Regions from separate parts of the Homo sapiens genome. Here region 1 is linked to region 2. The links come from fine-mapping of genetic effects on gene expression. A gene starts in region 2. The other region holds a variant in brackets. All regions are shown on one strand. Distances are between the middles of the regions. Region 1 has its middle 3.6 kb from the start of KRTAP5-3. Region 2 holds the start of DUSP8 (dual specificity phosphatase 8).

What was found. PIP is the estimated chance that this variant, and not a neighbour inherited with it, causes the effect. A credible set is the group of variants that fine-mapping cannot tell apart.
Region 1: its variant is the best candidate, but not a certain one, in a credible set for the expression of DUSP8 in anterior cingulate cortex (GTEx, PIP 0.83).

What each region holds. Positions count from the first base shown.
Region 1 is chr11:1,602,170-1,607,536 of GRCh38, forward strand. No RefSeq gene overlaps it. Among named protein-coding and RNA genes, the nearest start is that of KRTAP5-3, 3.6 kb to the right of the region's middle. The variant T/C (reference allele first, on the strand shown) is at 1,964.
Region 2 is chr11:1,569,405-1,574,771 of GRCh38, forward strand. DUSP8 (dual specificity phosphatase 8) reads right to left here and starts at 2,867. Exons shown (of 7, transcript NM_004420.3): 1 at 2,497-2,867. KRTAP5-AS1 (KRTAP5-1/KRTAP5-2 antisense RNA 1) reads left to right here and starts at 3,337. Exons shown (of 2, transcript NR_021489.2): 1 at 3,337-3,664. RefSeq lists enhancers at 1-405, 1,921-2,468, 3,017-3,562.

The DNA.
Region 1 (5,367 bases), 33 kb after region 2:
TAACAAGAATAATAACACCTATTGCTAGTGAAATTGGGGGAAAAGGTACTCATACATTGTTCTGGGGATACAATTTATTACAGTTTTTTTGAAAACAATATCTAATAAAATTAGGTCATATCAATACAATTAGTCTTGAAATTACTGAAAAAAGATTAAACGTAAACATATTCGTGTATACATATATGTGTATGATCTATTATTTACAGTGTCAGAAAAAGAATCCTAGCAAATTGAAAATTAATACTAAAAGTCATACCCACTAAAAAATAAGATTACACCTGTACCAGTGGACTTGGAGAAATTTCCTCAAGGCTCTGGCTAGTGTGAAATGTAGATGCAGAGAAATGAGCCCTGTAGGATCCTATTTTAGTAGCAAGCAATAAAAATATCTTTTACACATATGTTGAGTGTGTGCCTGGGGTACGTAGGACAGTGGCTGGGTGGAGTGGGGAAGGTGTGTAGGAATCAACAAAAAGCAAATGACAGTGAAAAGTGAGTCCAGTATGTGTGATCCTACTTGTGGAAAAACTCCACATATATGAATACGCATGCGCGTAAAGAAACATAGACTTATACCCAGATCTACTTCCTAGGAGAGGCAACCATGATACAAGTTCTAGTGAAAAGAATTAAGTTGCAAAGAAATGTGGATAATAAAATCCGAATTGGTAGCAATACCCAATTGTGTATGCGCATCTATTTTTTATACATTGTATGTGCAAGTAGGAGGGTTGGGTGGGGGTGCCTGTGGGGCCTGGCACTGGGGGTGGCTTTTATTGTTTTTTAATTGTGTATATTTAAGACATACAATTCGATGATCTCATATATGTCTACATTGTGAAATAATCACCACAGTCAAGATAATTAAGACATCTGCCACTTCACATAGCTCTCTCTCTCTCTCTCTCTTTTCTTGGTGGTGAGAACATGTAGGATCTACCCTCTCAGTACGTTTTAAGTACATAATAAACACCGTGTTGTTACCTGTGGTCACTTTGCTATGCATTGGGTCTCCAAGCCTTATTTATCTTGAAGAACTGAAGCTTTGGACCCCTGGGCCAGCACCTCCTCATTTCCCCTTTCCCTGCCTCTGGTTCCCATGCTTGCACTCTGTGCTTCTGTGAGTTTCACTCCTGTAGACTCCATGTGTGAGGGAGAGCGTGTGATGTCTGTCTTTCTGTGTCTGCCTCTTTTCACCCTGTGTAATGTCCTCCAGATTTGTACATGTTGTTGTAAGTAACCAGATCTCCTTCTTTTGAAAGCTGAAGAATATTCCATATATACACGTATAGATGTATGCATATATTCCACATTTTGAAAAAGTCAAATACATAGAAACATAGAATAGAACAGTAGTTACCAGGGTCTGGAGGAAGAAGGAAAGGGGGAGGAGGAGGTCAAGGGCTTGCGGTTGTGTAGGAGAGGGAGCCGAGCAGTCCAGTGCACAGTGCAAGGACTACAGGTGACAGTCAGGTGTTGTGTGTGGCAGGTGTGCTGAGAGAAGACTCCAGGTGCTCCTACCACACACACATACACACACACTAACATCGTACACACATACTTACCCTCATACACACACATACACACACACACTCACCCTCATACACATACATACATACACACAGTCTCACACACAATTAAAAACACACCTTACACACACTCATACACACATAATCATACAAACACACACACTCATACACATGCATACACACTCATACACACACTTATCCAAACACACCCATGCACACACACTTATACACACACATACAAAAAGGAACCATGGAAGGTGTTGGAGATATTAATTGCAGCCATCATTTCAGTAGTGTACATGTTTACCACAGCACCATGTTGTCCACCATGAATATGTACAATAAAAATAAATGTAAAAAAAGATGTGTCTTGGGAGAGTCCTTCATAATAACACCTGAGAGGTGTCACCTTTCTTGACTTTTTCTGACCA[T/C]GAAATGCACCTGCCAAGGATGGCAGACGTAGGGAACTGACCTCCTGGGCCCTCACGTGCCCAATTATCTTTGGCCCTCCGGACTGGAGCAGTTTGTAGACCTTGGAAGCAGGGCCCCAGCACTGACTGCTTGGCCTCAGGCCTCTGCCCCATCGGTGGTCAGGTGGCGGCCACGAGGGCGTGGGAGCTTGGCCATCCCTGCCTCCTGGAGTGGACGAGGTTGGCGGCTGGTCAGCCTGCTCCTGCCCCACCCTTGCCTCATGGACCCTGGTAGCATCACTGGCTCAGCCTTGCTGGGCATGCACAGGCAGCAGCACCCGCTCTGATCCAGGAGGCTTGCCCTGCTTTTGGCTAAGTTCTGGGTCCGGCCACTGCCACAGAAGGCTCAGTCCCCTGTGTGATCCTCCTGGCTGCTGCTGGGTGCCCATGGCGCCCCTGATGCCCTTCCCTTGACAGGGCTTGGGTTAGCATCAGGCCAGGACCCTCTGGGACTGGGACTTGTGCCCTGTCTGGGGTCCCTGTCCCACAGGTTGGGCCAGAGGCCACAGGGCATGCTGCTGGCTGGCCATGGCTGCAGGAACGTGACACTCACCCTTCCCTCTGGCAGCCTCCAAGTGATGAGTTTTCCAGTGGATATTAATTTCCTGAGGCCAGGAGCCATCTGGGGCTACAGGGCAGCCTGCCGTGTGCCATCCTGGCCCCTTCCACACCATGCTGGCCACTGCCTGTCATGGGGGTCGGAAGCAGGCGATCCCGTGCAGGAGGTGTCTCTGGACCTGCCTCTTCTCTTGCTCATCACAAGGCCAGGCCAAGCCTGGTGTCAGGACCCTGGTGGGGTTGCAGGGCCAGGCCTGTCCCCTGTGCCTGGGGTGTCCAGGGCACACATAGAGGAAATAGGGGCCCTGCATCCCGGCTCCTCAATGTACTGTAGAAATCATGGGCCCTCAACATTCAGGTCCGTGGGAGGCATCCACAGAGACTTCCAATGAAGGAACTGTTAGACAACTCCTGGTCTCTCCTGAGCTGGGGACAGGCCAGCCACACCCTGAGCCCCTGGGGACCCCCAGAGAGTGGCCTACTGTCTTGGGCTCTGAGGAAGTGCTCTCATTGTAGAGCACGGGGGATGTTGTGGCCCACTCCTCTCAATTTTGCTGTGAACCTAAAACTGCTCTGAAAAAAAAGTCCATTAAAGGAACTAGCATGGGCTGATGGGGAGGGGCTCATTCACCCCTGAGTTGGACACCGTGTGGCTACGAATCCACCCTCAGACCACAGAGTGGATTTCGGCAGCAACACCACACCCTAGCCTCATCCTGAGCTCAAATTTAACTCAGATAGACCAGGCCCTTTTTCTATCGTTCTTAGCCACCATTAAACCAGGTCACTCGTTCTGTGTTTTTGCAATTGGCTTTTAAACAAAAGAGCTGGGTTTGGTGTATGTTTCCTTGTCAAATATTTTTTTCCAATAACACAGGTGGAAGAAAACAGACAGGGCCTCTTTCTGGTCCAGCCATGGGGTGGAGGCCGTTTTTGACTTTCACCTTCCTCTGTGGGTCCAGCTCTCTCTTGCTTGTTGGCTCTGAGGATTATTTAGTTTTTCAACAGCTCAGTGACTTAAAAAAAATATATATGCTTTAAACATAGCACTTTAAAGCTTTATTTATTTACTTACTTATGTATTTATTTATTTATTTATTTAGAGAAAGAGTCTAGCTCTGTCGCCCAGGCTGGAATGCAGTGGTGCGATCTAGGCTCGCTGCAACCTCCGCCTCCTGGGTTCAAGCAATTCTCTTTCGTCAGCCTCCCAAGTAGCTGGGATACAGGCGCCCACCACCATGCCTGGCTAATTTTTGTATTTTTAGTGGAGACGGGGTTTCACCATGTCCTTTTAGAAGTTTCAGGGTTGTGAATAGTGTCTAGTCAACCTTACTACCGAAACAGAAACTCAGAAGCAATTTCTGAAACTTCCGTGTTGTTGAGTTTTCACTTTCTTGTCGCAGTTCCGCCAGGCACTCACTGCCTACCATCCTGTGAGACGGTGGCTTCCCGAGCAGCCTCCAGCGCTCTGCTGTTACAGACGCCTGGGTCTGGGGGCTCCAGCCTTGCAGCCCACCTCCTCCTCCGCCAGCTCCTGCCTTCCCTCCCCATGAGTCGAACATGCTGGACTTTGGTCTAGGCCCTCCAGCCTCCGGAACTGGGAGAAATGGTGTCTGTTGTTCCGTCTTCCAGGCTTACTCTGTGGGTTTTGTTCTGGCAGCCCCAGCTGACAGAGGCAGCAGGGAAGGGACAGGTGGGCACCTGAATCAGAAGTCTGTGTAGGGAGGTGTCACAAGGAGGCAGGAAATAGATGTCTGTAGGAAGCCTTCCAGGAGATGCTGAGGGATTTGGCGACTTGTGGGGGAGAGAAGCCCAAGGGGCCTCCCAATTCTGTATCCTGGAAGATGGGAAAGACGGAGACGCCCCAAGCCAAGTGGATGCCACGGCTGAGTTGTGCCCCCTGGTTCATATGTTGGAGTCCTCAACGCAGTATCTCAGAATGGCACCTTATTTGAAGATAGGTCTTTACAGGGGTGATTAGTTCAAACATGGACCTAATGGAGTAGGGTGGGCCCTAGTCTAATCTGTGTCCTTATGCAAAGAGATGAGGACGCAGACACACACAGAGGGATGAGTACGTGAGGATATAGGGATGGCGGCATCAGTAAGCCACGGAGGGAGGCCTCAGGAGGACCCGGCCCTGAGGCACCTCGATGGCGGATTCCGGACTCCAGACTGTGAGACAATCCACTCCTGTTGCTTAAGCCACACGGTTTGTGGAGCAGCCCTAGCAAACTCACACAGCAGGGTACGGGGGGTTCCCAAATGCCTGGGAGTGCAACTCTGTGGAAAGTGTACATTTCTCTAATCACACAGAAGTTGAAACAAAAGAATCACAATGCAAACTCGTGGGAGGTGCAGATCGTATTTATTTAGAAGATCTAGCCTAGGCACTTACAAGGCGAAGCCCTGGGGAAAGAAACAGGGCCAGGTCGGAGGTAGAAGAGGAGACTGGGCGCCCCTCCTCCTCAGGAGAGGATCCTGGGGTCTCCAATAATTCCGAGTCCTCTAGGTCAACTCCAAAAGCAATCGGAGCGGTGGCAGCTCAGGCAGGATGAAGACGAAGCGGGGAGGAGCCAGGAGGTTGCGGGGACCGGGGAGAGGCGGCAGCAGGTCGGAGGATTCCAGTGTCAGCGTGTTTCCAGCAGGCTCACAGGAGGGGCCCAGGGATGTGGGATCTTGAAGCCCTGAGAAGGTTGAAGTGGTGGGGTCAGGAAAGGAAGACGGGATTCCGGGAGGGTTGATGGGCAGGACCCAGCATGCCAGAAGCCCTCATGACCTCAGAGGCTGAGCGGCTGAGTACTGAG
Region 2 (5,367 bases):
CACTCCACACACAGGGCTGGTGCTCCTTACCCACAATCCACCTGCCCTGTGTGCAAGTACCCACGCGTGAATATGTGCACACGCGTGGGCTGGACATACACTAGAGTACACGCACGTCCTTGCCCTCTGTATGCAGGATCCCCTGAGAACCCCAGGACTCCAGTACCCGAGGGGTCAGCTTCAGACTCCTTACAAACACGAGCTCCCACACCCAGCGTCTCTGTGCAGCACATTCCTGTCCCTGAGCACAGACGGGACCAGGGAGTCCCAGGCCACCCCCAGCTCTCAACTGACAGCATCCTTACCATGTTACCTTCTGCTCAGCACCTAGAAATGGGGACTCACTACCTTCAGAGACAGCTGCCAGGACTGTCAAGCATGGGGGGATGGGACTGTGTCTCCCCCTCACACCTAGGCAGGCTCTTGGAGCTGTCCGGCTCACTGTTACCCAGGGATGCTTCTGGAGGCAGAAATCGTCACACTAAGGAGGCTGAGGAGAGACTGGTGGGTGGCAACTCTGGGAGGCAGGGACCCTGCACTCACACAGGTCAGCTCATCTTCCCTCACTGGGCTCCCCCAGATGCCCTCATCCCTGCCTCCCCTCAGCTCCCTTGGCTAGTGCTGTAGGACCCAAGCTGGCCTACACTCTGCTCCGCTGGCCTGGGGAAGCTGTGGACCTGGGAGAAAGTGGGGTGGGGCGGGGGGCTCCCTCCGATCCCAGGAACGGGGTCCGGGCAGGGCAGGGGATGGGAGGACTTGGCACAAGGGGCCGTGACAGTCGAGTCTCAGAGCCGGACATATCCAGGTTCCCTCCCTTCCCACCAGACCTGTGTCCCTCCTCCTGGTCACTGTGCCACATGCTAAACATCAGGACCAGTGTGGCGCTTCCAAGGTTCACTGCCCTGAGCAACTCCGGCAGAGGGGGCCTCAGCGGGTGCAGTTCTCATGGCCAGAGTCCAACCACCTCTCTCTCACTGTGGGTCTGCCCCTTTCCCTGCCTTCTGCAAGAAGTGACACCTAGGTCTCCCCAGGCCCTAGCTGATGCCCCTTCGAGGCACCTGTCCAGTGGCAGCCTCTAGGCCCTGACTTCAGCCCCAGCCTGAGAAGAGAAGGGTCCTGGAGCAGAGACTGACTCTAAGCGTCTTTCTGCACCTCTGTTAATGGGACTTTATTCCCAGAAGCCTCCCCGAGGACAGAGGATACCAGGGGAATAGAACCTGCCCAGCCACACTCGTGCAGCCCCCGGCTGGCTGCAGCAGGAGGTATTTCAGCGAGACTTCAGGATGAACTTCCAGCTGGGGTCACATGATCTGCCATCCGCATCCAGTGCTTATTAGCAGTGAATGCATGGGACTGTCCTCCTGGTGGAGGGCTGGGGCCTGGGGTGCTACATTCACCCCTGGACCGCCCTAGGTGCAACAGTGTCTCTGGGTGGGCTGTGCCAGAAGGGAGGCAAGGGAGAGTGCCGGGGTTTGGATCTCCCCTCAGACCCCCCGCTGGGGCACAAAAGGAGCTTCCCTGGCCTGCAGCACCCCACCCCCACCCCAAGCTGCACAGCAAGAGCACTGCGGAGCCACGCTACATCCTGCCACCCCCTCCTCCATCCCACAGTGTCCCCGCCCCCCATCACTGCAGCACCAGAGCCCCTATTCCCCTCAGCAGAGGCCGGTACACCCCGCAGCAGGGAGACGGAGGCAGATTCTCCCAGAAGGGGTGACCCTGTTGGGGCTGGGCCTATTGTTGCCCCCTCCCCTCCAGGCCAGACTATTAGGTATCCCCACCTGGTCTGCTCCGCATCCCAGGCTGGGCAGCTGGGCCTAGCGAGGTGGCTGCAGCAGCCTGGCTGTGCCAGCCCCTCCCCCAGCGCCGCGGCTGCCTCTGCAGCAGGCGGAAGGGCGCGGGGGCTTTATCCCTCAGGGGCCGGCTGGGCACCCCGGGATGGGGAGGCAGTGCGGCCTGGACACTGGGGGGATGGATCTGCAGCCCTCCCCCCCGACAGGGGAAGGCCCCTTCCCGGGTGTCCCAGGCCAGAGGCCGTCGCGTCCCTCCCACGGCCGAGGCTCCACACCTCCCGGACCGACTCCGGGCCAGGGTCCGCCTGCTCCGGTTCTGGCCCCCGCGGGGGTGACGTTCGGGACGTCGGGGGCTCGCGCAGATCCGCGCTGGATCTCAGGCGGCCCTGGTGGGTCCTGGATTTTTGTCCCCCCCCCATTCCACACCCAAAGAAGGAGCTGCGGGGAGAAGGGCGGCAACGCGGCGGGCGGGCGTGGGCTGGGCCCGGGTCCGCCGGGCGTTGCGGGGGGCGGGGAAGGGGCCTCCCTGTCCCTGGCGTCCTGGACGGCCGTGGCCGCTCATTCCGGGGCCGCCTCCTCCTCCCGGGCGCCCACCGGGTGCCGCTGCCCCAGCGCCCCCGACGCGGCGCCCTCCGCCCCCCGGCCCGGGCCGGTGAACCCCATCCCCGGCGCCCGCCCCCGCCCCGCCGGCGCCTCCGCTCACCTCGCTCGCGCTCGCCTCGGGGGCGCTCCGGGGACCCGCGCCGCGCTCAGGGCGCCCGCTCGGCCGCGCCGTCCATGGGCCCGGCGGGGGCCCGCGCAGCCGGGGCAGGGGCCGGGGGAGCGCGCGGGCCGCGTCGCCGTCGCCGCCGTCGCCGCCGCCAACGCCGCGGGGAGCGCTCGCTCGGGCCGGGGCGCGCGCACTGCGGGCGGGCACGCGCGCTCGCGGCGCGCATCCCAGCCCCGCGGCTCGGCGGGCGCGGCCGGGAGGTTCCGGCGCGGCTCGGGCTCGGGCTCGGGCTCGGGCTCGGGCGTCCGGCGTCCGGCGGGGCGTCGTGGGGGGAGCCGGCTCGGCCGCCGCGCTCGGCCGCGAGTGACAGGCCCGGGGCGGAGGGCGGGGCCGCCGGCGGGGATGAGGTCATGCCGAGCGAAAAAAGCCCCTGACGTCACCTGCAGCCAATCAGCGCGCGCGGCTCGGGGGCAGGTGACGTCAGCGGAGCCCGGGCTCGGGGTGAAGCTGAGGCGGCTGCCGCGGGGGGGGGGCGGGGTGCAGGGTGCGGGTGGGTCGCGCCGCCGCCGCCTTCCGCCCTCACCCCGGGACCGGCTCTTAAAGGGACCACGCGGCGTCCGGGACCCCGCCTCCAGGAAGCCCTCCCGGCCCCGGGCCCCGCGTCACCCAGGCCCCCCGTCACCCGGGCCCCCGGCCGCGTCGCACAGACCCCGGACGGTCCAGCTGAGCGGCTCCGGGCGCGAAGTCCTCCCCCCGACCCGGACAGGCGCCGGCGCCGCTCCCCCCTTCTCCTGGCCTTTGTTGGCGCTGGGCCGCCGCCGGGGAGCCCTCCCCAGACCCAGGCGCGGCGTTTTACCTGCAGCGGCTGTGCTCGCCCCGCCGCGACCCCCGCAGGACGGAGCCGGATCCCCCTGCACTCGGGCGGACCTGGGACCCTCAGAGGCGAGCCGGCTGCCTCGGGTCACACATCCGCGAACTCCGGGGGCGGGCTCCCCAGGACGCCGCCGACCCCCCACGACCCCCAGCCCTCCCGCTTCCGTGGAAAGCCGCCCCGACGACCCCTGTGCGGGCTGTTGAGGGGCCGCACCCCGCCGACCGCTGTGGGAACACCTCCGCGCGTGCGGCGGGGACGCGGCGAGTCCGGGGCAGGAAGAACGCACGGGTAATTGCACCTTCGGCAGGTGTTGGGCGGGAGCAAGGGGGTCAGACTCGCGCTGCAGGGGGAGGGCGGGGGAGGCCTCGCTGTCCTGGAGGAAGGGGACAAAGACCCCTGCCCAGGAGCCTGGGAGCCTTTGAAAGTAATGATTTTTTGGCGGGGGGGGGTTGTCACGAGACACCCTAGACATTTCTAAAAGGCCCCCTCCCCGCTGCCGGGTGGAGAGGGAGCGTGGGGGGATCCGCCTTCTGCCCCCGAGCCCCCAGCCAGCCTGGGCCCCCCAGGGTCACCCTGGGGCTCTGAAGGGGGCTTCGGCCGCTGGTTGAATGAAGGGCCACAGAAAATGAAGCTGGCGCAACGACCGCAGAACCCTCAGTGGGCACCAGGACCACGGAGCTCAGGGTGCCAATGGTGATGGCTGGGGGTGGGGAGTACTGTGGGCAGCAGGGGATGCTGAGCGGGGTTTGGGGCTCCCCCTTTCCATACTCAGTCTTCCTGCCAGCCTCAGAGCTGAGTACACCGTTGGCGATTAATAAGCGCTTGCAGCTCCCTTCCCTGGCCAGCCTGAGGGGAGCGGCAGTGGCCCGTATGGGGTGGGGGTGGCGGTGGAGTGCGTCCTGGCGCAGAGCTGGCACACAGCACAAACAAACGCCTTGGCGGGAGTGGGTCTGTCCCGGAAGGGAGCCCAGGGGTTATTGGGGTTGGGGCTGCGCCCCAAAGCGGGAGGGCCCTGCGAGAAGGGAGGCCCTGGCTGGAGGGGGACCCTGAGACTGGAGGTGCCGGACCCGGATGCGGGGCCAGGTGAGTAGGGCTGCCTGCTGCAGCCTTGCTGGGTTTGAAAAGTGGGGGAGGCTTGGCCCTGGGAGGGGGCAGGAGGATTCAGGCTGAGACCCGGAGGGGGCGAAGGAGGTCCTTGAGGAGGCAGTCACAGGCCTGAAAGGACCTGGGACCCGCAGGCATGGGAGCTGTTAGCCGTTAGATAGAGGGGCTGTCGCCTGGGGGGAAGCCTCACCTGGCTTGTTCCCCCTGCCAGGCCTAGGTGAGCCCGATGGGCGTGTCTTCTGCCCAGCTGGGATGTGGCCAGCATCTGCCTGTGGCCTGGGAGTGCCCATTGTCCCCTAAGAGCTCTGGTTATACCCTGGGCAGCTACTGGCCAGGCTGGAGCAGGTGGCAGGCAGCGACCTTTAGTCCCTCCTGGAGGCTCCCAGGGGGCGGTTTGGAGGGGAATACGGCTCCCCTGGAGGGCCTGGGCTGTCCCTGGGGGGCAGAGTGCCCTGGGCGGCGATTGTTATAATCCCCGTAGCCATTTTCATGCAAATAAGCACTGAGAGCGTTAGGTTCTGCCCCTAACCAGGCTGGCGGACTAGGGAGGTGGCACCCTGGGGAGGACGGTGGTTTTTCTGCAGCCCCGCCTTAGTTCCACGTTGCCTTTGCACCCAGCAGAGGCCGGCCTGGGCGGTGGGCTCAGGGGCCTGGGTGCCCGACCAGGTCGGCTCGGCTCAGCTCAGCTCGGCGGCCGCACCGCCTCCCGGCACAGGTGTGGACGGGGGTGGGAGGCGCGACCAGGGAGGGGGCTGCGGTGTCAGTCCCGGCCCGGGCCTGTAGACGCCGCCTCGGGGGTCTCTGGGGCTCGGGAGGACCTTGCGAGGGGCCGGGGAGGCGCCAAGGCCGCGGCGAGGGACGTGCGGGGGTCCAGCAGCCTGGGGCGG